Regions from separate parts of the Homo sapiens genome. Here regions 1 and 2 are each linked to region 3. Evidence: fine-mapped expression QTL. A gene starts in region 3. Each other region holds a variant in brackets. All regions are shown on one strand. Distances are from middle to middle.

Evidence for each region.
Region 1: its variant is fine-mapped to the expression of POLDIP2 in breast (GTEx, PIP 0.92).
Region 2: its variant is fine-mapped to the expression of POLDIP2 in prefrontal cortex (BrainSeq, PIP 0.91).

The regions. Positions count from the first base shown.
Region 1 is chr17:28,392,977-28,401,143 of GRCh38, reverse strand. It overlaps SARM1 (sterile alpha and TIR motif containing 1), which reads right to left. Exons shown (of 9, transcript NM_015077.4): 8 at 5,118-5,239; 9 at 1-4,987. The coding sequence ends at 4,858. SLC46A1 (solute carrier family 46 member 1) reads left to right here. Exons shown (of 5, transcript NM_080669.6): 4 at 378-534; 5 at 1,431-6,502. The coding sequence ends at 1,488. Among named protein-coding and RNA genes, the nearest start is that of SLC46A1, 9.2 kb to the left of the region's middle. RefSeq lists enhancers at 2,559-2,648, 3,413-4,096, 4,780-5,463. The variant G/T (reference allele first, on the strand shown) is at 4,497.
Region 2 is chr17:28,384,189-28,392,355 of GRCh38, reverse strand. SARM1 (sterile alpha and TIR motif containing 1) reads right to left here. Exons shown (of 9, transcript NM_015077.4): 3 at 7,787-7,999; 4 at 7,426-7,517; 5 at 7,081-7,316; 6 at 4,080-4,182; 7 at 3,817-4,006. Among named protein-coding and RNA genes, the nearest start is that of SARM1, 17 kb to the right of the region's middle. RefSeq lists an enhancer at 7,340-7,409. The variant C/G (reference allele first, on the strand shown) is at 3,427.
Region 3 is chr17:28,353,232-28,361,398 of GRCh38, reverse strand. It overlaps POLDIP2 (DNA polymerase delta interacting protein 2), which reads left to right and starts at 3,872. Exons shown (of 11, transcript NM_015584.5): 1 at 3,872-4,111; 2 at 5,523-5,604; 3 at 6,814-6,911; 4 at 7,608-7,704; 5 at 8,083-8,158. The coding sequence starts at 3,951. It overlaps VMA12 (vacuolar ATPase assembly factor VMA12), which reads right to left and starts at 3,752. Exons shown (of 6, transcript NM_152464.3): 1 at 3,518-3,752; 2 at 2,410-2,483; 3 at 1,995-2,084; 4 at 828-870; 5 at 552-664; 6 at 1-242. The coding sequence starts at 3,728. The coding sequence ends at 147. MIR4723 (microRNA 4723) reads right to left here and starts at 745; the gene lies at 665-745. RefSeq lists enhancers at 3,495-3,594, 3,707-4,472 and a silencer at 3,785-4,174.

The DNA of each region.
Region 1 (8,167 bases), 40 kb before region 3:
AGACCAGCAGTTAATCCCAAACAGGAGATGATTCCAAAGAGGATAAACCAGAAAAAAGCCATTTCCATCAAGCTTTCATCAGACAATATCACATGTACTTTTTTTTTCTTTTATGTGCTGGGTTCTGTCAGATCACATGTACTTTTAATGTGGATTTAATAGCAGCCATTTGTTTAGTAGCCCCTCTGTGCCAGCTACTGTCCACATATGACCTTACTGAATCCTTGTCACAGTACATGATGTAGCAGGATTTACTGGTGAGGAAGGGGAGACATAGGTTAAGTGACTACTCCCGGTCACACAGCTGTGAGGTGGTGGTGCCAGAGTTGGAATATGGCCCTTTCGGACTCCAGAGTATGGTATTTATTTCTTCACAGGTGCTCTCTTTTCTGCTGTGGCCTGTGTGAATAGCCTGGCCATGCTGACGGCCTCCGGCATCTTCAACTCACTCTACCCAGCCACTCTGAACTTTATGAAGGGGTTCCCCTTCCTCCTGGGAGCTGGCCTCCTGCTCATCCCGGCTGTTCTGATTGGGTAATGCAGGGCCCTGAACCCATGCTCATAATGGAGCCCTTTCTCTTAAAAGTTTCCTCTTCTCCTCCCAACCAGAAATGGCAGCTTCATTCCTGGAATCCTTACCCTCTGGGTGTCTTGTCCCAGGTTGCCCCTCTCCTTGCAGATGGCTGCCTAATCCTCCAGGAGCCATTTTCCAAGGGCGAGATGGCGAGCTAGGTGGAGGAAGGATCAGGCTAACATTGCTGCTTGGCAAGGCTGTGTTCTCTCTCCCAGTTCCCCTATTTCCCTCCATTCCCATTTTATAGATGGAACTATGGCAGCAGAACTGTGTTAAAGGGAAGGCCAGGAAGCTTTGTCAGCTAGTTGTGGCTGGGCCACAGGCTAGCTTGACCCGCTGACTTTTTCCTGTATGATATTAAGAATTATATTTCATGGCCGGGCGTGGAGGCTCTTGCCTGTAATCCCGATCCTGTGGGAGGCTGAGGCAGGAGGACCACTTGAGCCCGGGAATTCAAGATCAGCCTGGGCAACATAGCAAGACCTTGTCTGTATAAAAAATTTAAAAAATCACCCAGGCATGGTGGTATGCACTGGTAGTCCCAGCTACTAAGGAGGCTGAGGCAGGAGGATCACTTGAGCCCAGGAGTTCAAGGGTACAGTGAGCTATGATTATGTCACTGCCCTCCAGCCTGGACAACAGAGCAAGACCCTGTCTCTTAAAAAAAAAAAAGTTATTTTCCAGAGCCATGTCCCTGGATATTGTCCTCCAGCTCTCAGCTTCTCAGCTTGGGGAAGGAGGAGGTTCAGGAGAGCTACCTGGACCAGCCCACCCCAGTAAATCCTGTGTCACTTCTCCAGACAGGCCTTGAGGGTTCCCCACATGAAATCCAAACTCTCTCTCTGGTCTCTCACAGGATGCTGGAAAAGGCTGATCCTCACCTCGAGTTCCAGCAGTTTCCCCAGAGCCCCTGATCTGCCTGGACCAGAAGACAGAGGGCAAGAGGAGCAAAGTGAACACCAAGCAACTGGAGGTCTGCAGCTGGAAGCCCAGCCCACAGCAGGACAAGCAACTCTTGTCTAAGGGCAGTGCTCTCTTTGGACGAGGTAGTCAAGAGAGACCAAGGCACCACCCCATCCACAGCTGACCCAGCCTCTGTCTAGGATCTAGAATCATAACCCACACAGGCCCACTGCAGGACAGGTGGCAGAGGAGCTATTTGGGACAGGAGTCAGTTCTCCCTTTCTGCTATCCATCACTTATAACCCCACAGGCCAGAGGAGAGGTCCTGAGAGAGGTGACACTTCAGGGACCAGAGGCAGCACGAGGGCTGGCATCTCTCCTTCCAGCCCAAACTGCACAGCCCCAACCAGGTTCCCAACACGTGTAGCAGTCATCAGCCATTCCTTAACAATGAATGTGGTACCTGGTTAGTGCCAGCCTTGGGAAGGAGGGAGGGAGGTAAGAGGGGCTTGGTGATCTCTGGAGGAAGAGTGTTGCCTTTGCTGTGGTTGGGGAATCGATCCTTGGCTATGGCCTACCCACTCCCCTGGCTGAAGAGTGCCAATCATTACAAATCAGCTTCAGCAAACTGAAACAAACCTTCTGGTGCCTTGGGCTTTGGGGCCCTCTGTTTTCCTGCTCCCAGTCTGCCTGCCATACGTTAGACAACAGAAGCTGCTGGGCTGGGCAGGAGCCCTGAGCTGCCTGGTGGATTGGTACCAAGTGGGGCCAGCCAGGGCTTCTACTGACTCGCTGTGCAACCTTGAGCAAGCCCCACTAGGAACGGCTAGATCAGCAATGCCCCAAATTGTTGAATCGTGGTGATCACATTTGGATGGACAAGTTAGGAAACTTAGCTGATTCTCTGAGATACTTCCCACTTCCTCATACATTCTACAATGAGATGCCTCTCTTCATGGGCCTGGGGAAAGGATGAATGAGTGTGGCTGGACTTTTGACCTTTAATGTCCCTGAGCAGTTCTTGGCCCTTGGGGAGAAGTAGGGGGAGGATCTGGCTGACTCAGCCCCAACCGAGGGGTAGCAGCTGCAGCCCAGCCAAGCAGAACACCCTGGCCCTACAGACCTGTGTCTGAGCAGGCTTTGGAGGAAAGGCCACTTCTGAGTCCTCTGTCTCAGGAGAAGCCAGGCCTAGGTGCTTGACCTGGTGATCTGAGCTGTGTTTGTCCTAGTATGGGTGGCAGTCACCTCTGAACACACTGGCCTTGGCTTAGAGGAGGCTTGTGACTTCAGCTGTTCCAGCTGGGGCTGGATGCTGGACTCTGATTCCCTCAGAGAGACAGAAGATCGGGCAGAGGTCAACCAGAAGGCCACACAGGGCAGTGGACAACAGTGGAGGGTATACCAAATAGAAATAAAACGCAGGAAACCTCTCTGAATACTGCCCTTGGGGACCTCAGGAGGGAGTGGGACTGATTGGAGACAAAGAGCCAGAAATCATCCCCTGGAGATACTCAGACACTGTATTGTTATTGGCGCTGTCCTGTGAGGGCAGTGTCCAGGCTGCCCTGCTTGTCATATCCATGCCCTGGCTCTGGCCCCGGTGAGCACTTGTGCTGCATGAGGAAAGGAGGATCAGGTGGGGTCAAAACCAAAGCATCGAGGCTGGCACTGGCCAAGACAGACTCTGGCAGGGAGGGGAGTGGAAGGAAGGAGCCCCAAACCTGGAGTGAGACCTTTGACTTTCTGATGATGTGGCCAAGAACTAGGAGTCACCTGGCCAGCACAGCCAAGAGTGGGGCTGGGGGCGCAGCCAGCTTTAAGGTGTCAACACCTGGCCCTTGCGGGGAAAGAGCCTTCAGCAGCCCCCACGGCCTGGAGCCTGGGTTTATTGGAGGGTGCTTTCTTACCCTCTGAACCCAGTGGAGGAGGGGGCAATGGGATATTCCTGCTCTGTATGGCCTCTGGGTCAGCTTTTTGTTGCAAAATCCTATCCCCCGCTGCTAGATTCTTTGAAGCAAGGGAGAAGCAATAGCCCAGCCTCAGAATGATTCTCAGGAAAGCAATTCCACTGCCAGTGGACTGGGTGCCAGGAGGCCTAGGTCTGGATCTGGGGCTGCCACTAATGACAGGAAAGTGGGCTTATCCTCAACCTTTCTGAGCCTCAGTGTCATTATCTGTAAAATGGGGATGATAATACCAGGTAGAGTTGCTCTGATGACTGGAGACCATGGAGCGGAGTGTTTGGGAAATGGCAAAGATTTGTGAGGGCTTCGTGCTTTAGAGATTTGCTACCCTTAACCACCAGCATCAGCTCACCTGGGAATCTGTAAGAAATGCAGAGTCCTAGGCCCCACCCCAGATCTCCTGATTTTAACAACATTCCCAGGTGACTTGGATGCATGTTAAAGTTGGAGAAGCTGCCCTAAGTGACAACCCTTTGCCTTTTCAGGACTTTGCCTCTTTCCACAGAGCTGCAGGTTCTGTCTAGGCTGCTTTTACTGCCATGGGGGCTGCCTGGTCCCTGAGTAAGCAGTGGGTAGCCCTGGATGGCTGAGGGGCTGGGGAAGCCAGCTGGGCCAGACCAGGAAGGAGCCTGAGGCACAGCACCAAGGCATGGGGTAGGGTGGGCTTTGAGGCACGGCCTCCCCATGCCCAGACCCAGGCCCAAACAGGAGGCTCCTGTGCACCAGCAAGTGCAGCAAAGCTGGCTGCAGTGACAAGGAAGTCAGAGGGAGGGCTGGTTTGCCTCAACCCTCGCCCTGGATGTGGCAAAAGATACCACACCGAAGGAAGCTGTAGGGGATCTGGGACTTAGTCAGGCTAGCTAAGGGCACTGAGTGATTACAGGGCAAGGCCACAGAGCGGCAGGAAGTTGTAAGTGCAGGGGCCAGGCACAGTCTGAGTGGAGAGCCATGATGGCACTCATCCCTGGCTGGCTCCTGGGCCCAGGCCCTTGCTCAGAATACAGTGCCCAGGCCCGCCTGGGCATTGCCTTAATTCCTGTCTGAGGCTGCCTTCC[G/T]TCATCCTCCTCAAGCTGACTGCTATCAGCAGGAGAAGGGAATGCAGAACCACCCCCACCCCAACTCCAGTGTCTCCAGAACTGAGCAGGGACCCTCCCCATGACGGAGACAGACAACCCAATGGCAGGGCCTGGGGGAGTTCTAACCTCCCGTGCCCAAGCCTGACTTCCCTTCCCTCTCCAGATACTGAGGAAAGTGGGTTGGAGGTGGGCCATGAGGGTGGGGGACAGGGGGAGGGAGAGCCATTTCCTAAGAAGAGCCCAGGTTGTCTCAGCCCAGGGAGACTGGTTTCAGGAGCTGTTCCTTCAGAAAGGACGATGGAAATGGAAGTCACAGCAGGGCTGGGGAACTGGGGACTGGTTAGGTTGGACCCATGGGTGCAGCACCCTCCAAACTGGTGTCAGAGCCTGCAGATGAGTCCCGGGAGGAGCGGCCCTGCAGGAAGCGGATGATCTTCTCAATGGTGGCCTCCTGGTATTCGTGGGACCACCTGTGGGCACAGGAGCCAATGTGGTTCAGACAGCTGGGCAGAGGGAGCTGCTAGTCAGCTGTTTGCCCACACTCTGCCTGTCATGGTGATTTGTACCCTACCCCCCTGGTCCCAGGGCCCTGGGGCTCACTTGATACCGTTGAAAGTAAGCACAGCCTGCATGTCCTCAGGCAGGACCTGGGGCTCAGGCCACTCGAAGCCATCAATGATGGGCACAATGTTCTTGCCGCAGCTTAAAGCAGTCACAATCTCCTGGAGAAAGAAAGGAAAGGAGGAAGATACCCCTGTACCCATCTAGGGACCCTTGTAGCCAGGCAGGTGCTGGGAGGCCCACTGGCCCGAGGCTGGGCCCAGGGCAGGACACCAGTCCTGATGTCCACCTTGATGTCTACCTTAACCCTTGTAGTGTAATAAAAAATAAATATTTTTCCTTTGCCCAGAGTTCCTGGCACAGAGCTGCTAAAACCCTTGGAATCTCTTGAGTGATGAGTGTCTTTGTATGCTAAAGAGATGATTCCCCACTGGGGGCCCGGGGGGTGCTATGGGGGTAGCCTAGATAGTTTCAGGAAGAGGGCTGGTCACCAGGGAGACCAGGGCATGACTAGAGGATTGGAACTTTCAGCCCCACCTCCCAGCCTCCAGAGAGGTGCTGGAGATTGAGTTCAATCACCAATGGCCAATGATTTAATCAATCATGCCTACATAATGGAACCTCCATAAAAACCCCCAAACAAGGGGTTTTGAAGAGCCTCCAGGTTGATAAACAGGTGTAGGTGCTGGGAAGGTGGTAGAAGGCATGGCATCCACACCTCCACCCTCCATACGTAGAGATCCTATGTATCTCTTCCATTTGGCTATTCTTGAGCTGTGTCCTTTATAACTGTGAAATTAAATAATTCAGCTGGGCATGGTGGGTCACGCCTGTAATCCCAACACTTTGGGAGGCTGAGGCAGGAGGATCACTTGAGCCCAGGATTTTGAGATTAATAATATTATTTATTACTATTATTCAAGCTTTGTTAAATCAAACCTAAAGCTCTTGGAACTTTAAGTTATTCTGAGCCTTGACAGGAATTGGTCTCTGCAGCCTGAGTCATGGGGCATGCAGCTGCAACTTCCACCTATTTTTTTTTTTTCTGTAATTACTTAGGAAGACCAAATGGCACCAGAGATAAGACTCCCTTAGATCCCCACTTAGATCACCACCCTTTCTCAGGGGGTAATAAAGTCATCTTCCTTGGAATGTAGCAATCTATAACCAATCAAAGCACTGTAACATACGCACTGGTCTTGTATGGAAAATGTTGTAATCCTGCTAAAATTCCTCTCTCTTTGCCTGTGGAAGTGAAACCTTAACTTCTCCAGTTTGGAATGCTCACCCCATGCCTTTGGAGTCAATGCTTACTGGGTGGCTATTCTCAAACTTTGCACTCAAAGAAACTCTATACTTAGTCTTATTTTCTGAATCTCATTATTTAAGGTTGACATAATAAACAACTAATAGTAAGTAAAGTGCTTTCCTGAGTTCTGTGAGTCATTCTGGCAAATTGAATCTCGGGGTGTCATGGGCACCCCCGAATTTGTAGCCAAATCAAACAGAAATGTGGCAGCCTGGGGGCCTGGGCCTCGTGACTGACATTTCAGAATTGAATTGAATTGCGGGATACCCAGTTGGTGTTGGCAAGCTGGAGAATTAGTGGTTAGTGTGGGAAAAACCCCAAACAATTTGGTGTCAGAAGAAAAACATCACACTCCTGCGTACAGGTTGATCCATCATGCGCCCTGCCAATTGTACTCCTTACTTATTTCTCAAATCCACTATTTTTCCCTACCTCCACCCCACTACCACCCTCTTCCAATCCCCATTATCTTTAAGCCCCCACCAGGTCTTTCCTCATCCACGCTTGTCTTCTCTAATTCACTCTCCACATTGCCCTTTCATGTAGCTAATATTTGCAAAATGCACATCTGACAAATTAGGTCCTGTCACCCCCTACTTAAAATTCTTCAAGACTTTGCATGGTCTTAGAATAAAGTCCAAACTCCTTCATGTGGCCTGTGAGACCCTATGTGGTTGGCCACAGTCCACTTCTCAAACTCTACCCCTGCCCTGTCCTCCCAGACACACAAAATAAGCTTCCTTGTCCTTCCCCCTTGATAATGCCCATTCATTTTTCTGATCTGAGCTCAATCAACTCTTACACAGGGCAGTTGTCTCCCACTGCCCTGACCAAGTCAGTTCCCCTATTATAGGCTCTGCAGAACATATTATAGTTGCAAATTTTAATTAATTAATGGGTAAATTACTCAGTATTTGTCTTCTCTGCCAGACATGAGGAGGGATCATATCTATTTTTCACTGACCTTATATCTCAGCATCTTTCACAAAGCCCTTATAGTTAGCCCTTGCTAAATATTTAATAGATGGATGAATGAATGAATGAGAAAACATAGCACAGCAGTTAGGGCTGCACTCTGGAATCATCAAATCGGGGTTTGCACTGAGTCTCTGACACAGGCTCTACGACCTGAGGCAAAAATAATAGGTTCTCAAAGTCTCTGTTTTCTCTTTTCTTTCTTTCTTTTTTTTTTTTGGCGGGGGGCAGGGGAACAGGATCTCACTTTTTGCCCAGGCTGGAGGGCAGTGGCACCATCAAGGCTCACTGCAGCCTCAACCTCCTGGGCTCAAGCCATCCTCCCACCTCAGCCTCCCAAGTAGCTGGGACCACAGGCGTGTGCCACCATGTCCGGCTAATTTTTTGTATTTTTTAGTAGAGATGGGGTTTCACCATGTTGCCCAGGCTGGTCTCAAACTCCTGGCCTCAAGTGATCCTCCCACCTTAGCATCCCAAAGTGTTGGGATCACAGGCCTGCACTACCACACTCGTTCCTCTGTTTTCTAATATATAAAGCAGGATTAATGATAGTCCCTGTCTTCAGGATTGTTCCATGGAATAAGCGCAACATTCCATGGCAAGTAATTAGAACAGTGCTTTGCATGCAGTGTATGCTTAATACGTAATAGGTGTTATTATTTCCTCTTCTGTAAAGTGGGGATAATAAAACCTACCTCAAAGCGTTGTTCTGAGGAATTATTTGCTAGTAATCGGGTTCCATTAAGTGCTTATTGAATGTTTTTCTTCCTCTCAAGAGGGAACCAAAGGGATTTTACTTTTTTGA
Region 2 (8,167 bases), 31 kb before region 3:
TCACGAGGTCAGGAGATCGAGACCATCTTGGCCAAGATGGTGAAACCCCGTCTCTACTAAAAATATATATATATAAATTAGCTGGATATGGTGGCGTGTGCCTGTAGTCCCAGCTACTCAGGAGGCTGAGGCAGGGGAATCACTTGAACCCGGGAGGCGGAGGTTGCAGTGAGCCGACCAAGATCTCACCACTGCACTCCAACCTGGTGATAGAGCAAGACTGTGCCTCAAAAAAAAAAAAATAATTAAATAAATAAAAGAAAGGGATAATGGTTTGTTCAGGATCACCTAGCTGGTTGAGAACGAAAACAATTAGAGTCAAGTCCTCTGGCTGGGCACGGTGGCTCATGCCTCTAATCCCAGAACTTTGGGGAGCCGAGGCAGGCACTGAACTCCAGGCTTGAGCTCAGGAGTTCGGGACCAGCCTGGGTGACATAGCGAAACCCTATCTCTACTGGAAAAAAAAAAAAAAAAACGGAGTCAAGTCCTCTAACCTGGTAAATCTACTAGATATGTATGGCTCTCCCAGGCATGGCATCTCAGCTTCATCAGTATCACTTGTCTGCTTAATCATTGATTCAATTGTTCTATAAACTCCTCTACAGCCTCAGCCTCTCTCTCTCTCTCTTTTTTTTTTTTTTTTTTTTTGGTGCAATTGCATAGAGCCTCCTTTGTACCATGCATGGTTTTAGGCACCAGGGACACAGATGAATGAGGCAAGGTCTGAAGTCTCATGGAGCTCACAGACACTCTTTTCTTTCTCTCAAAAGGCTGCCTGCCACGTGCTCTGGGTTATCAGCCATGTTCTTCCTGGATGCTCAACTGCCCCAGTGCCCCTCCCCAAACCAGGCCTAGTACTCAGCCCCTCCTACATGGCCTCTGGGGCTTGACTCCACACTCCATGTGGACTGCATTCCAGTGTCAGAGCCTTCATCCTAAGACCCACCGCCCTGGCATCTTCTCCTTCATGGGCTCCTTGATTTCCAGTGCTTTAAGCACAGGTCTTCTCCTGCCTTTAGACACTGCTTTACCTGGTTTCCATGGTTCTTATCCAGCCAGTGGTGTGCTGCTAACTTTATAGTAACTAGCTATTCATGGGGGAAGAAAACCCAACCAGCCAATCAACCAAACTAACAAAACTTTGATTTGTAGTGGTTGCCAATTTCCTTGGTGTAAATACTCCCACCATGGCTGATGACAAGCTACCAACATGACATCACTGGATGTGGAGTTGTGAAGAGATACAATCATCTCTGGTGTCAACCGAATCCAGCCCTACCCCATCACCTCCCCTCACACCCCCTCAGAGCTGTGCCATAGAATGCAGTGTGGATCTTGGGAAAGTGATGAGCTTTGGAGTCAGATAGATGGAATTTGAAGCCTAGCTTTTCTGATTTCTACACTAGTAGTGCAGCCAGGGGAACATTATTCTACTTTTCTGAGCCTCAGTTTCTTCATCTGTGATATGGAGAAAGCAGTACCAAGATGTATGTGGGCTTTCAGCACTGTTCTCCTCCCTACCTTTATTCCTTTGCTCATGCTGTTACCCTGGCCTGGGATGCCTTCTATTCCACTTACCCAGATTCTTAAGATTCTTCTCAAGACCTGCTTCCTCCATGAAGTCTTCCCTGATTATTCCAGTCCTTTGAGGACTAAACTCTGATTTTTTTTTTTTTTATCTTGCCCAAATTCCTACCTAAGGAGCCTAGGGAGTCATGCCCTACAAACCATAAAGTCTTATCGGAGGAGGTTTTAATTTTAACCCTATATAGCGTGGTCTGCTTTCTAACCTGACTCTAGCATAACATCACATAATAAGGGAGGAAATAAAAATATTTTAACCCCAAATATATTTCCCTGCCATATCTTGAAATTGCTCCACAAGTTTGTCTCTTGTGGGAAAAGGCCACATTCTATAGAGAATCCCCTTCCCCCCATTTTTTTCTTTTTCTTTCCGGACTCAGGAGATAATCAACAAAGAGCCAGGCACCCTTATAAGTCTGATAAGAAACATTTTATAACCTACTCCCTCTGAAGTCTGCCCTGAGAACTTCCTCTGCACAATAAAACTTGGTCTCCACAACCCTTTATCTTAACCTAAACATTCCCTTTCTATTGATCCCAGGTCTTCAGATAAACTCAATTAATTATCAACTGGAAAAATTTAAAATTTACCTATAGCCTGGAAGCCCCTGCTTTGAGCTGTCCTGCCTTTCTGAACCAAACCAATGTACATCTTAAATGTATTGATTGATGTCTCGTGTCTCCCAAAAATGTATAAAACCAAACTGTGCCCTGATCACCTTGGGCACGTGTTCTCAGGGTCTCCTGAGGGCTGTGTCACAGGCCATGGTCGCTCATAGAGTCTGACTCTTTTCGTTGACACCTTGATGCTCTCTCCCTTCTCCAAACCCCTGTGGCAAGCAAGATGTTTGCTTACCTGGCTCAGCATTTACACCAACTTGTATGCGATCTAGTCATTTTGAGACAGGGTCCCACTCTGTTGCCCAAGCTGGAGTGCAGTGGTGTGATCTCCGTCTTCTGGGCCCAAGCGATTCCCCTGCCTCAGTCTCCTGAGTAGCTGGGATTACAGGTGTGCGCCACCATGCCTGGCTAATTTTTGTATTTTTTTAGTAGAGACAAGGTTTCACCATGTTGCCCAGGCTGGTCTCGAACTCCTGACCTCAAGTGATCCTCCTGCCTCAGCCTCCCAAAGTGCTGGGATTACGGGTGTGAACCACTGTGCCCAGCCCTCTGGGCATATTCTTGTCTCTGAGCTGACTGCTTGTCTCATCCTGTCTCTTAGATGACTACTGCATCCCTCAGCCCCAACTCCAATTCCTACTGACCGATTAATGATTAATAACCTGAAGATGCAATATGGAGCTATCCATCAATGCATTCTGTTAGTATTCAATAAGTTCCTACAATGCGTCAGGCACTGAAAATACAATGATGAATTAAACAGATATAGTAGTTATAATAATTATATTAATAATAATAATTGCTACCATTATTGAGCAGTTACTATGTGCCAGCCATTCTGCTAAGCACTTCACAAATTTTGGCTTTTTTAGTCCTTATAACAATGTTCTAGGGAGTTAGATACTATTATTATACCCTCTTTCCAGAAATAAATATGAAGCTTATCGGGGTTAAGTAACTTGCCCAAGGCCAGAGCCAGGATTCAAACTCTCAGTTTTGAGCTCTCAACAACTATTCCATTCTGCCTGTCGCTATGCTCTCCTGTCTCTCATGGAATTTATTTTTCAAAGCATTTTTATGTCTCTCTGATCCTCACAACAGTTCTATAAGGTGAGTGGAACAGGTAAGTTACCCCATTTTGCAGAAAAGAAAACTGAGGCTCACATCCTGGCTAACACGGTGAAACCCTGTCTCTACTAAAAATACAAAAAAATTAGCCAG[C/G]CGTGGTGGCGGGCACCTGTAGTCCCAGCTACTCGGGAGGCTGAGGGAGGAGAATGGTGTGAACCCGGGAGGTGGAGCTTGCAGTGAGCCAAGATCACGCCATTGCACTCCAGCCTGAGTGACAGAGCGAGACTCTACCTCAAAAACAAAAAAAAAAAAAAAAGAAAAAGAAAACTGAGGCTCAGAGAGCCAAAGCCTAGTCTCTTGTCCCTTGTGGTTTGCTAAAGTCCTATTACAGTCAGAGCTGTGGTTCCTGACTTCCAGCTGGGCCAAGGAGGTGCTTCAGGGCTAAGTGTGCCGGGATGTGCAGACAAGAAGGAATAGAAGACGACCCTATCTTCTGGACCACAGGCCAATGCTGGGACCGCAGAAGCATAGGCAGGCACCTACCTTATGCACCCAATCCTTGCAGTCATGGTCTTGCATGCACTTGTCCAGTGCTCCAGGTGATAGCACCAACACAAAGTTGCGGGCACCCATGACACTCTGGATGAGTTTGTCCTCGAACTTGCCTGCTTCCAGCTTCTCCACATCAATGAAGACACTGAAGCCATGCAGCTGCAGGTGCACCTTCAGGAGACTGCAAGTAAGTCCTGTGTCAGTGCCACAGCCTTGTCCCCACGCCCCGTCGCTGCCCGCCCGCCCCTCCTCACCTGGCCAGCTGGGAACCTGAGTTCCGGCGGTAGCTGATGAAGACATCTGGAGTGTCCCCACTGGGTTTGCCACCAGTACAGGGCAGCGGGGAGTGTAGCATTTCTGAAGTGGGCAATAGGCAGCATGGTGAAGGTGGCCCCTCCGCATCACTCACTGTCAGGTATATCATCCCTTGTGGACTTAGTCCCCAGTCCACCAAGCCCTCTCAGCCCAGCCTGGGGAGGGTGGCCTGCCCCAAAAAGGAGAAATGGGGCCTCCAGGAGGAAGGTCATGTTATTGTTGGGTTCCTCTTAGGAGGCAGGCACTGTGTTCTAGGGACATTGATATGCATGCACTTCCAGCCCTGACCTCTCTCTGGAACTCCAGACCTGAACAGCCAGCTGCCCACAATCACTCCAAATTCAACACACCCCAAATCTCCCCCTCATTCCTTCTTCCCTATTTCCCACCAAAGCCAGACACCTGGGTATCAGCCTCAACTCCTGCCTCCCATTTAATTTATTCAACAAATACATCCTAAGCACTTGCTGTGTGCCAGGACTGTCTTCAGTGCTTGAGATTCAGCAGTGAGTAAAACAGACAGCACTCTGCTCCTCTGGAGCCACGCTCAGTACTAAGCGCCAGGCACCGCATTCTGAGGATTCTACCTACTAAACATACTGGACTCCAGCCTCCGGGCCCTTCCCTGGCTCAGGTTTCCAATGCCAGCCTCCTCAATGGCCTCCCCAAACCCAGCTAGAATTGCCCAGTCTAGGCCAGGGCAGTGGCCCACACCTGTAATCCCAGCACTGTGGGGGGCCAAGGTGGGTGGATCACTTGAGGCCAGGAGTTCGAGACCAGCCTGGCCAATATGGTGAAACCCTGTCTTTACAAAAAATTATCCAGGCATGGTGGCACATGTCTGTAATCTAGCTACTTGGGAGGCTGAGGCACGAGAATCACTTGAACCCAGGAGGCAGAGGTTGCAGTGAGCCAAGAATGCACCACCGCACTCTAGCCTGGGCGACAGAGTGAGACTCTGACTAAAAAAAAAAAAAAAGAAAAGAAAAGAAAAGAAAAGAATTGCCCAGTGTAGTCCATTTGCCACAGCTACCAGAACATCTTTCTAAAATCCAAATCTGAGCATGTCATTCCTCCCACTTAAAAACTATGCATGGCTCCCTACTCACTATACAAACTATTTTTTGTAAGCTATTTTTGCCCTAGGATTTTCCTGTTGTTTAAAAATGAAATCTTGCGCTGGGTGCGGTGGCCCACGCCCGTAATCTCAACACTTTGGGAGGCTAAGTTGGGAAGATTGCTTGAGGCCAGGAGTTTGAGAACAGCCTGGGCAACATAGTGAAACCCTGTCTCCACAAAAAATAAAAAAATTAGCTGGGTGTGGTGTTGCGCACCTGTGGTCCCAGCTACTTGGGAGGTGAGGTGGGAGAATCACTTGAGCCCGGGAGGTTGAGGCTTCAGTGGGTTGTGATTGCGCCACTGCACTCCAGCCTAGGTGACAGAATGAGACCTTGTCTCAAATTAATTAATTATAATAAAAATGAAATCTTGAAGTTTTAATGGGAGCTGCAATGTAAAAATAATAAAAGCCAACCTGCTTTGGTTGAAGCATAAGAATGCAGCCAAAGCTCAGTCCCTTGTGTCTTGTGGGTGCTTAGTCTGTAATTGCTGAATGAAAGGATAAAATGAAAAGAATTCATCTTCTTATAATATTTAGACATAACCCTCATAGACAACATTTGTTTGTTTATGAAGCAGAAAGACAAGGGCTCAAGTCCCAGTTTTGCCATCTAATGACTTTTATGACTGTGGGAAATGTATTTGAATTCTTTAAATGTTAGTTTCATTATCTTTAAAAGGAACACCCATGATGGAAATATTCTATATCTTTAATGATGATGGTGGGGGTGGGGGGTCACACAGATGTCTTTCAAAACTCCTCAAACTGATACTTTTTTTCTTTTTTGAGATAGGGTCTCACTCCTGCTGCCTAGGCTGGATGGAGTGTAGTGACCTGATCACAGTTCACTGCGGCCTTAACTTCCTGGGCTCAGGTGATCCTCCCACCTCAGCCTCCCAAGTAGCTGGGACTACAGGTATGCGCCACCACACCTAGCTAATTTTTTGTATTTTTTTGTGCTTTTAGTGGAGATGGGCTTTCACCATGTTGCCCAGGTTGGTCTCAAACTCCTGGACTTGAGCGATCCGCCTGCCTTGGCCTCCCAAAGTCCTAGAATTACAGGCATGAGCCACGGTGCCCGGCCCTCAAACTGGACACTTACTCCTCTTTTTATTCTTTCAAGAGTTCTTTAAGGTTGATTTTAAAAACTGAACACTCATTGCATAGAATCAATATAGAGACTGATGGGATAATATCTTAAAAACCAAACAGAGTACCTTGTAATTGACAATAAAGATTAGCTAAGTAGTAAATTAGTAAGTAAAAATAAATTAGTAAATAAGGAGGGTGGCTAGAGGCCTAGAATTCACTCTAAACCACCTCTAGACCCAAATTTTGTAAGCTGTTGGCCAATAGGATAACACACATACGCACACCCTTCCCGCCTACACCCCACTGCATGGACTCTCCATAGGCCGCTGCCTCTGCCTGGGCTGCCCTTCCTGTTGCCACCCCTCCCCGCCAGTGCACCTCTCAAGACATGGTCAGGCATCCTGTCCTCTCTGAAATCTAGACCTGGGTGGATGGGGTGGGCTGGGCTTCCTCTGTGCTCCCACTGGAGACCTGGGTAGCTTCCTGCCGGGGCCGCTTGCCTGTTTAATAGCCTCCTTCCTCCCACCGCCTACCCACCTCAGACTGGGAACTTCTTGAGGTAAAGTGCAACGTATTCATCTTTACATCCTCAGAGCCCAGTGTGACCCACGTTTGTGCTCAATCAATCCACGGCGAGGCTGGAAGGCTCCACCCCGTGTCTCCCCTCACCATTCCAGGGCCGTGGCTGGGGCTGGGGCTGGGGCGGGGTCCCGGGTGAGCGGGCTGACCTCTGGCCGCCGTGAGGATGCGGGCGCGGTGCACGCCCAGGTGGATGCCGCAGTCTTCCAGCAGCTGCTGCTCAGACACGCGGTGCAGCAGGGAGCGGTCCAGGCCGCAGCTGACCAGGCCGTAGGTGTACTGGCGGAAGCGCGGGTCCAGGCTGCCCAGCCAGTCCGCCAGGTTGCTGCGGTCGCACGTAGAATAGTTGGCGAAGGTCTTGAGCTCCGTGAGCTCCCTAAAGAACCTGCACCCCACGGAGGAGAAGACGCTGAGGTCCAGACTCGGACGGGCTGTGGGCGGAGGGGGAGCTTATTTAGACCTAGCTGGGGTCCGGCGGGCAGGAGGCTCCGTACCTCTTGCGGGTGATGCCCGATTTCATGCCCAGGTCGGTCTGGAGTTCCTCCTCCGTGAGCCGCAGAAGCAGGTCGCCATCCACCTGCTGCTCCTGGGGGAGGAGTCGGGTGTCAGGAAGGGCTTCGCTACTCCGCCCTTGGACCTCGAGCACAAGATGCAAGGGAAGGAACTGGAGATGGCGTGGAGGAGGCGGATGGGACCTAGATCAGAGCCGAGTGACCCTAACGGTGGCTGCGTACAGGCTCCCCGCCCCCAAAAGCGACCCTGGCGCCGCGGGATTGCGAGGCGGGGAGGGAACGCAGTCCCTGTGCACAGGGCGCCCGCTCTGACTCGGGGGAGGCGTATCCCACGCGACTCTACCCGGAAGCTCTCGCAGTACTTGGAGAAACCGATCTGCTGCAGCCACGTCTGAACCTCGGCCTCCTTCCAGCTGGGCACGGAGGGCAGGATGGGCCGTGGCACCTCCTCGCCCAGCAGGCGCAGCGCGCGCTTGGCCAGCGCCGACTTAGTGCCATTGGTAGAGTAGGAAACCAGGCGTTTCAGGCTCTGGATGGCGCCGATGTCGCTGAACACCTAGGGAGGGAGTGGGGAGAGGGCTGTAGGTCCCACCAGCTCTCCAGGTGCTCCCACACGTGCCCAGTCCCTCTCCTTGTCTCTTCTCACAACCCAAAGTCTCTCCATCTGCCCTGGCCCCACCTTCAGCCACTAAGTCATGGGGTCCTGCGGATTCCCCCTCCTGAA
Region 3 (8,167 bases):
CCCACAGAAACAGCAGCTGGCCTGGGCTGGTCTTCTGACTAACTGGAGCTGAATACAAAAAGTCTGATGGGTTGACTGAGTCGGTGACTGCCAATTGGAGCCTGAAGCCCCCAAAGTCTTCTCTAGACTTGATGATGAAGCACCAGTTACAGTTCTCCCAGCTCGCCTTCCATTGCCCGCACCATGACATACAGCTCGGCCAGACCCACCACAGAGGCGACGATCAATGCAGCTAGCACCCGCTGGAGATGGGGAGAACCAGGCTTAAGGGATGCAGGCCAACAACCAGCTCTGTACCCCAGCAACTTTAATGAGGATGGAGAGCCCCCCAACCACCCTCTAAGTTGGGGGAGGGGAAGAAAAGAGAATGTGGCTTCTCCTGGGGTTATTACCTAACCTCCCGTGACTGCTGGAAAGCTCTAATGCTCCCCTTATTAATGGCATAAATATCTGTTCAATACCTAACCTGTGCAAGGCACTTTCACATACGTCCTCCCTTACCCACTAACACCCCCACCAGGGGCACCCTGCCCTGCCCAGTGCCTACTCACCGAGGCCATTTCTGTGAAGATATATTGGCTTCCAAGGTAAGTGCAGACGAAGGCAGCAACCACCGTGACAATGAAATTGAAGATGGTGATGACCAGAGCCTTCAATGATCTCACTTTGGGGAGGAGCCAGAGAGGGCACCTTTAGTTCAACATTCTCTAGGAGGTGCTCTTATCTCATGGCTCCCCCACCAACTGGGTTTCAGTCAAACAACAAGCCTGAGTGTCATGACCCATCTCAGGAAAAGGTTTTAGAAGCCTGATCTCCTAGTACCTCACCTTGCTTTCCCAGGTCGCTGAGAGTCCCACCATGTCTTGTATCCTGGGAAAAAGAAAAAGAAGATGATTCAGAATAGAAGCAGCTCAGAGAGCATCCATTGACAGTCTGGCTCAGCCCTCTCTATTCCCCAACATATTAACTCTGCCCTCCCCATGGATTCTTTTGTCTGGAACCATTTTGACTCTTTTCTGGACTACAGAGCAGGCATTTCGGAGAGAGGACATAGGCTGCCAGTACCCATCTACTCTCCTGTTCCAGGGTAGGAGCATGCCATAGAGTAGTAGGGAGCCCTGTCAGAAGAAATGCTCGAATGGCTGGGCACAGTGGCTCACCTTGTAATCCCAGCACTTTGGGAGGCCGAGGCAGGAGGATCACCTTGAGGCTGGGAGTTCAAGACCAGCCTGGCCAACGTGGTCTCTACTAAAAATACAAAAAATTAGCCTGGCGTGGTGGTGCATGCCTGTAATCCCAGCTACTTGGGAGGCTGAGGCATAAGAATCACTTAAACCTGGAAGGCGGAGGCCGCAGTGAGCAGAGATCCTGCCACTGCCCTCCAGCCTGGGTGACAGAGTGAGACTCCATCTCAAAAAAAAAAAAGAAGAAGAAAAAAAGCCTCCAAGATTCATTCCCACTTATTTATTTATTTATTTATTTATTTTGAGATGGAGTCTTGCTCTTGTTGCTCAGGCTGGAGTGCAATGGTGCAGTGTTGGCTCACAGCAGCCTCTGCCTCCGCCTCCTGGGTTCAAGTGATTCTCCTGCCTCAGCCTCTCGAGTAGCTGGGATTACAGGTGCCCGCCACCACGCCAGGCTAAGTTTTGTATTTTTTGTAAAGACGGGGTTTCACCATGTTGGCCAGGCTGGTCACGAACTCCCGACCTCAAGTGATCCACCTACCTCAGCCTCCCAAAGTGCTAGGATTACAGGCATGAGCGCCGTGCCCGGCTAACTCCCACTTCTATGACGTTTAAAACTTGGTCACCATCTCAGCCCAGAGTCTCAGTGAATGAGATGGGAACTGTGTTGTTTGTATGCAGACTTCCTATGGTCCCTGAACAGTATAGAAACCAAGTTTCCATGTTTTTTCTAAACTCTGTATCTTCTTCCACTGCAGGGCCCTACTCTGAGGGGCTACCTAGACCACGTACTGAAGAGCATGTCCTTACCTGACAAGTGACGTTGCGGGTGATCCGTTTATATTCCTCATTGGCCAGCTGTATCTTAATCTTCTCCAGCCGGGCAACTAGTTCTGGGTTCTGAAGCAGAAAAATCAAATGAGAAGAATGATATTCCCAGCTTGTTAGAAAGCACATCACAATCATTGGTTCCAGGGGTAAAGCACTGCTAAAGGTATCAGGAGACCCACATACTAGTCGTAACTCCAGTGCTTTGAAACTGTTTTTTTTTTTTTTGATCTCAATTTTCCAAACAGCTGATGGGGAGGACAATATCTGGCTCCCCCAGATCCCAAAGATTTCAAAAACAATTTTTCAAGCCTAAAAGTTGATTTATAAGTTCAGTGTATCATGGATAAGCCCAACTCAGTCAATAACCACTCTCACAAACATATCCCTTACATACCCGTGGAGGCTTCACAACCTCTGGGAGATAGATTTCACTGCCTTCTAGGAGCTCATGGAGGTATAGTTTGGAATCTGAGAAGAAAAGGTTTCACAAACACAATGATCCACGAGCTGAGGTTGAAGGGTTAAGATCAAGAGGGGTGTAGCCCTTCTTTCTACCAAAATAAAACAGGGCCATCTCTACATTAATCCATTTCCAGGATCATTTTCAATTGAAAAGAATTTTGGATAATTCCATGTAGGTATCTCCCAGTGCTGCGCAGGTGACTTTAGCTGTCAGCTCTCAATTATCCTGCCAGTGTTATAACTAACAAGTAAGCCATTTACTTGTGCCTTTGGGTTAGATCAGTTCTGTGGCCACAACAGCTCTTCCCTAAATAAGTTTAGGTCATAGTGATGCTAAATGCTCAGAGGACACTAATACTAGGCAATCTCTTTCTAAGGTCCTTTCTAGTTCTAATAATTGAGCAGTCTACCCTTTGCACTTCTGGCTGGTCTATGTTACTTCTGGCAAAATACCTTATGTGCTAGTTTGTCCTGTTCCTTCCCTTTACACATAAGGGAACTGAGGCCCAGCGAGGAGAAATGACTCCTTCAAAGGATTAGTGACAGAGCTAGGACTGGAACTCACATGCTACTCTCAGGCCAGATCTTTCAACACAGCTTTTGCCATCCTATATTAAAAAAACAAACAAACAAAACAAAGTATCAGATTTCACCACTCTTGCTTTTGAGGTGGAAAGAAATCCGGATTCCTACAAGCTCACTATGCTAAGCTGATTCCTAAAGTGGAGAAAAAGAAGAGACAAAACCTGTGATATTTGTATTTGGTAAAAACCTAGACTTTCTCAAGGGTGAATTGGGCCTAGGTGTGCCTGGAAGTGAAGAGGGGGCTCTCAAAAGAGCAGAAACTGCACAAGCAAATTTGTCATCCACGAGAAATTCCCATGGGAGTTAAGAAAGTGGGTGGCCCTGGGATTTATGGAGTGACTCTTGACTTGTCTAGATGAGTGCTCCGTAGAAGAAGGGGAATGATGGGAAAAGACCTCAGGAGGGAATCGATCTGGACACAAGGAGGGGACCCCGGACTGGAGACTGGGGCTCACCCCTTTCTCTCAGATGCTGGTGCAGATCCCGGATGAGACGGAAAGAAACCAAGCGTTGGGGGCCACTGGAGCTATCACCGCCCTTGTGCTTCTTCCCCAGCGCGGCCTCAAGCTCGGCCCGCAGCTTTCGGGGTAGCCGCTCTGGCTCCAGCTCCCCGCCGGGGCCCAAAGCACGCACCAATCGCTCGCCCGCAAGCAAAGAGGACGCCATATCTAGCCGGCTCTCCGGTCAGGTGACCCCAACCCGGACTTCCGCCCGCCGCGCGCCGGAAGTAACGCTAAGCGCACCGGAAGTTGCTCTGAGCTCCGGGGTGGGACCAGGCGGGCCAAGAGGGCCGGGACGCCGCGCGGGGCAGTGTGGGACTGGGGCGGAACGCCGCCCGGCCGCGGGTCGGGCTCTGTGTCAGCAGCCGGGCGGGCGCTCGGGCGGGACATGGCAGCCTGTACAGCCCGGCGGGCCCTGGCCGTGGGCAGCCGCTGGTGGTCCCGGTCGCTGACTGGGGCCCGGTGGCCAAGGCCGCTCTGTGCGGCGGCCGGAGCTGGAGCCTTCTCGCCAGCGTCGACCACGACGACGCGGAGGCACCTCTCGTCCCGGTGAGGGACGGAGCCAGGGGGCGCGAGGAACTGGGCCTGGAGCCCAGAGAGCGTGTTCCTAGCCAGTGCGGAGGCCAGGGGCCCGGGCCTGCTGAGGGTGACTGGAGTTTGACCCGGGAGAGGGTCCCGAGCAGGGAGCCGACCTGCGCTGTCTGGGACATGTGCCAGGAGCAGGGAAGCCAGCGCGGCCCAGAGCCCTGGTTGTACAGGGCTGGCCCTGGGGGGGAACAGGTTACCCTCCCCAAGTGAATCCTACTTCCCCGGCTGGGGTCCCCAGCACCGATGTCAGAGGGAAGCTTTTTAATTCAGCCCTAGGGCATTGGCTTGAACCCTCAGCCTTTGGATTTGGTGAAGGTCTGCCTCAGAAAGATGCTAGAGGTGGGAAACGAGACTCTTGGGTGTGGACCCTCGTAGGCCCCAGGTTTCCAAGTGACTTTGGGGAGATCGATTTTCTATCTGTGACTTGGGGAAGGGGGTTTGAGGCCATGGGGATGGTGTGGAAACTGTTTCCACGGATGGGACAGGCGGATCAAATGGGCTGGTGGATCAGTGGGAGGAAGCATAAAGTTCACATCTTCAAAACAGTAAAAACAGCCTTTATTTGAAGGGCCCCTAGAAAGAGCAGCCCTGTTCAGAGTGGTGACTGACATTTTAGTGGCTGATATTAGACACTGAACATTGGGGAGAGATGATAGCTATTTGCAATTTAAGACCCCTGTGAGAATATGAACAAAAACGGTATTGAGAGAGCGATGTGCCGTAGGAAATCTAGAGATGTTTAAGCTTTTCAAGGGCAATGTAAGGGCTACAGGTTAGAGGGGGAGATGGACATGGAATTATAATACAGGACAAATATTTTTTGAGCACCTCTTGTACACTAGGCTCTGAGGGGGCAGTACCAGCTAATCAGACTCAGGCATTGCTCCCAGGGAATTTACAGTATTTAATAAAGATAAGACATGGACACAACTGAAATGTAAAGGGAGCAGGATATTGTTTGATGACTTGTGATATAGAAAATGTAAGAAAAGAAGAAAAAAAGATACTCCCCTTCTAAAAAAATTGAAAAAGTGAGCAAGACAGTTAAAGTGCTGTGGGAGGTCAGGAGGGTGGGTTAGGGAAGAAACAAGGGCAGGGGTACATTTGAGCAGAGTGTGAGGGCATGATATGAAGAATGCCCAGTGAAGAGAGAAGACAGTAGTATGGGAGCGGTCACATCTAACACTGGGAGACTGTGGAGGTTTTCACCAAGGAGGAGGAAAGCCTTTCCTGCTCCAGCTGGTCCCACTACCCCAAACCCTTCTCTGCTGTCATCGCCCTGGCCCCTCAGTATCCTAGGAGCTTTTTCTTATGGATAACTACCATTACCTTCTCAGCTTTTCTGTTGCTTGTTCTTTTCCTTCCTACTCAGAAACCGACCAGAGGGCAAAGTGTTGGAGACAGTTGGTGTGTTTGAGGTGCCAAAACAGAATGGAAAATATGAGACCGGGCAGGTGAGTATTGGGCTGGGTCATCTTTCATTTTCATAGAGTGCTCTGCTTCTGAAAAAAGTCAGATTAGGTCACAGGCCTGCATGGTATGGTGTTCCATTCATTCCACCTTGATGTTTGGTGCCATTCCAGAATCAAATTTGTATTCATTTTTTATTTTATTTATTTATTTTATTTATTTATTTTTTGTGAGACGGAGTTTCAGTCTTGTTGCCCAGGCTGGAGTGCAATGGCATGGTCTCGGCTCACTGCAAGCTCCACCTCCTGGGTTTAAGCAGTTCTCCTACCTCAGCCTCCCTAGTAGCTGGGATTACAAGCATGCGCCACCACACTTGGCTAATTTTGTACTTTTAGTGGAGATGCGGTTTCTCCATGTTGGTCAGGCTGGTCTCGAGCTCCCGACCTCAGGTGATCCACCTGCCTTGGCCTCCCAAAGTCCTGGGATTACTGGCGTGAGCCACCGCACCCAGCCCAGAATCAAATTTTTATAGATAGGGTTTCTGTTCTCCTGGATTTGAATGCACTTAATGTGTCAGTGGGTTCTCTTTCCAAGTTAATGTGGACAGGGATGGTGTGGACTATAGTGAGGTTTAGCCAAGTTGCTGAAGATTTCTCTAACATAGTGGATGGTGGGAAGCCGTGGAGGGAGCTTTCAGAAAAGTATACCTTTGATGCTTTGCCGTAATAAAATTGACTTCAGTGTGGTAAACTCTGGATGTGTGGTTCTTTTTCTATATCAGCTTTGTTCTGGGTCCACTGGGATAGATTTAGGCCCTTCTAGGATATTGTAGGTAAGGAAGACTTTTTGTTTGTTCAACATTTTATTTTTCTGTGTGCCTACAATGGACTAGGCATTGTGCATTAGGGTTAAATCAGAAAGCAAAGTAGACATGATTCCTGCTATTGTGGAGTTTCTAGTCTAGAAAAGAACGATTTGCAAATGGCCAATAGCTGTACATTGTGCTAAGTGGAAGGGAGGTCAGGGAAGGCTTCCTGGAGGCCTAAGCTTTTACCTAAAGGATGAGTAGAGTCAGCCAGGTAAAGAAGAAATAAGAGTGTTCCAGCATTGGTCTGGTTGATCACAGACTTCAAGGGAAGAGGTAGCAAGACCTTGTGCTGGAGTTGCCTCCACCTGTGTTGCTTTGTGGTCTGGGGCCCACCTGGATGGATTTGCTGGACTGCAGACTCACTGAGGCCCCTCTTTCCTTCCAGCTTTTCCTTCATAGCATTTTTGGCTACCGAGGTGTCGTCCTGTTTCCCTGGCAGGCCAGACTGTATGACCGGGATGTGGCTTCTGCAGCTCCAGAAAAGTAAGTTTCCCTGTGGTTGTGCCTCACAGTATCCTCAGGAGGAGATGGCAGACATATGTAATTGGGGTACTAGGGGTGAAGACAGCGTCCTCCTAGGCCTTGGAAACATCCCCAGAGTACTTCTCTGGGACTAAGACCCATGGAGACAAAAGTGCTGAGTGCCAGGGATAGTCTAAGTCAGAGAGTCCCTTTAGGCCTCCTCAGAATGCTTTCCTAAGCCATTCCTAATTTTCATTATGAGTATCCCAGAGGGCATTTGGGGGACAAGTCTTCTTGATTTCTTGATGTTCAGCTGGAGTCTTTCCCTCAATCTCACATCATCCCTAGAATACATTAAAACAGAAAAGGTTCAGCCCCATTAAGTGATCACAGACAGTCCCTGGGATATAAGAAGACAAGAGTACTCTGGGCCCTGGGGACTGAGGTGGCAATTTGATTTTCTCAACATGGCCCCCTTCTTTTAAGAGGTATCCACACGGTCAGATGATGGCTCCATACCATGGTCTTCCATGCTCTATTATTTGCCCCAACTGAGGAGCAGCTGAGCTGAGGTGCTGCAGAGCAGGTGTCCAGCTGGTGCTAAAGCCCCTTTAGATCAGAGACCAGCCTGTTTAGGTGAGGAGGAGTAGGGAGCTGAGTCAGCCACAGCTTCCATTTCTCCTGGGGTGATCTTGGCCTCCTTCTCCCACCCCATAGAGCAGAGAACCCTGCTGGCCATGGCTCCAAGGAGGTGAAAGGCAAAACTCACACTTACTATCAGGTGCTGATTGATGCTCGTGACTGCCCACATATAGTAAGTAAGCAAGATGGCTGGGCTTGGGGGTCCTCTCCATGGAAAGTCCTGCATCCCAATGGGGACAAAGGGAGGGAAGGGGGTCAAACAGAGCCCAGGTCAGTCTTGGTCCCCAAGGCCTTGGACTGCACAGTGGCCAACAAAGCCCTGATTCACGTCTTTTTTTTTTTTTTTGATATGGAGTCTCACTCTGTCGCCAGGCTGGAGTGCAGTGGTGAGATCTCAGCTCACTGCAACCTCTGCCTCCCGGGTTCAAGTGATTCTCCTGCCTCAGCCACCCGAGTAGCTGGGATTACAGGCATCTGCCACCACACCAGCCTAATTTTTGTACTTTTTAGCAGAGACATGGTTTCACCACTGATTCACTTCTTGCCTTAGTCTCAGAGATCTCAGACAGAAGCTGTGACCTTCTTGGCTAACCATGATGACAGTCGGGCCCTCTATGCCATCCCAGGTGAGTAGT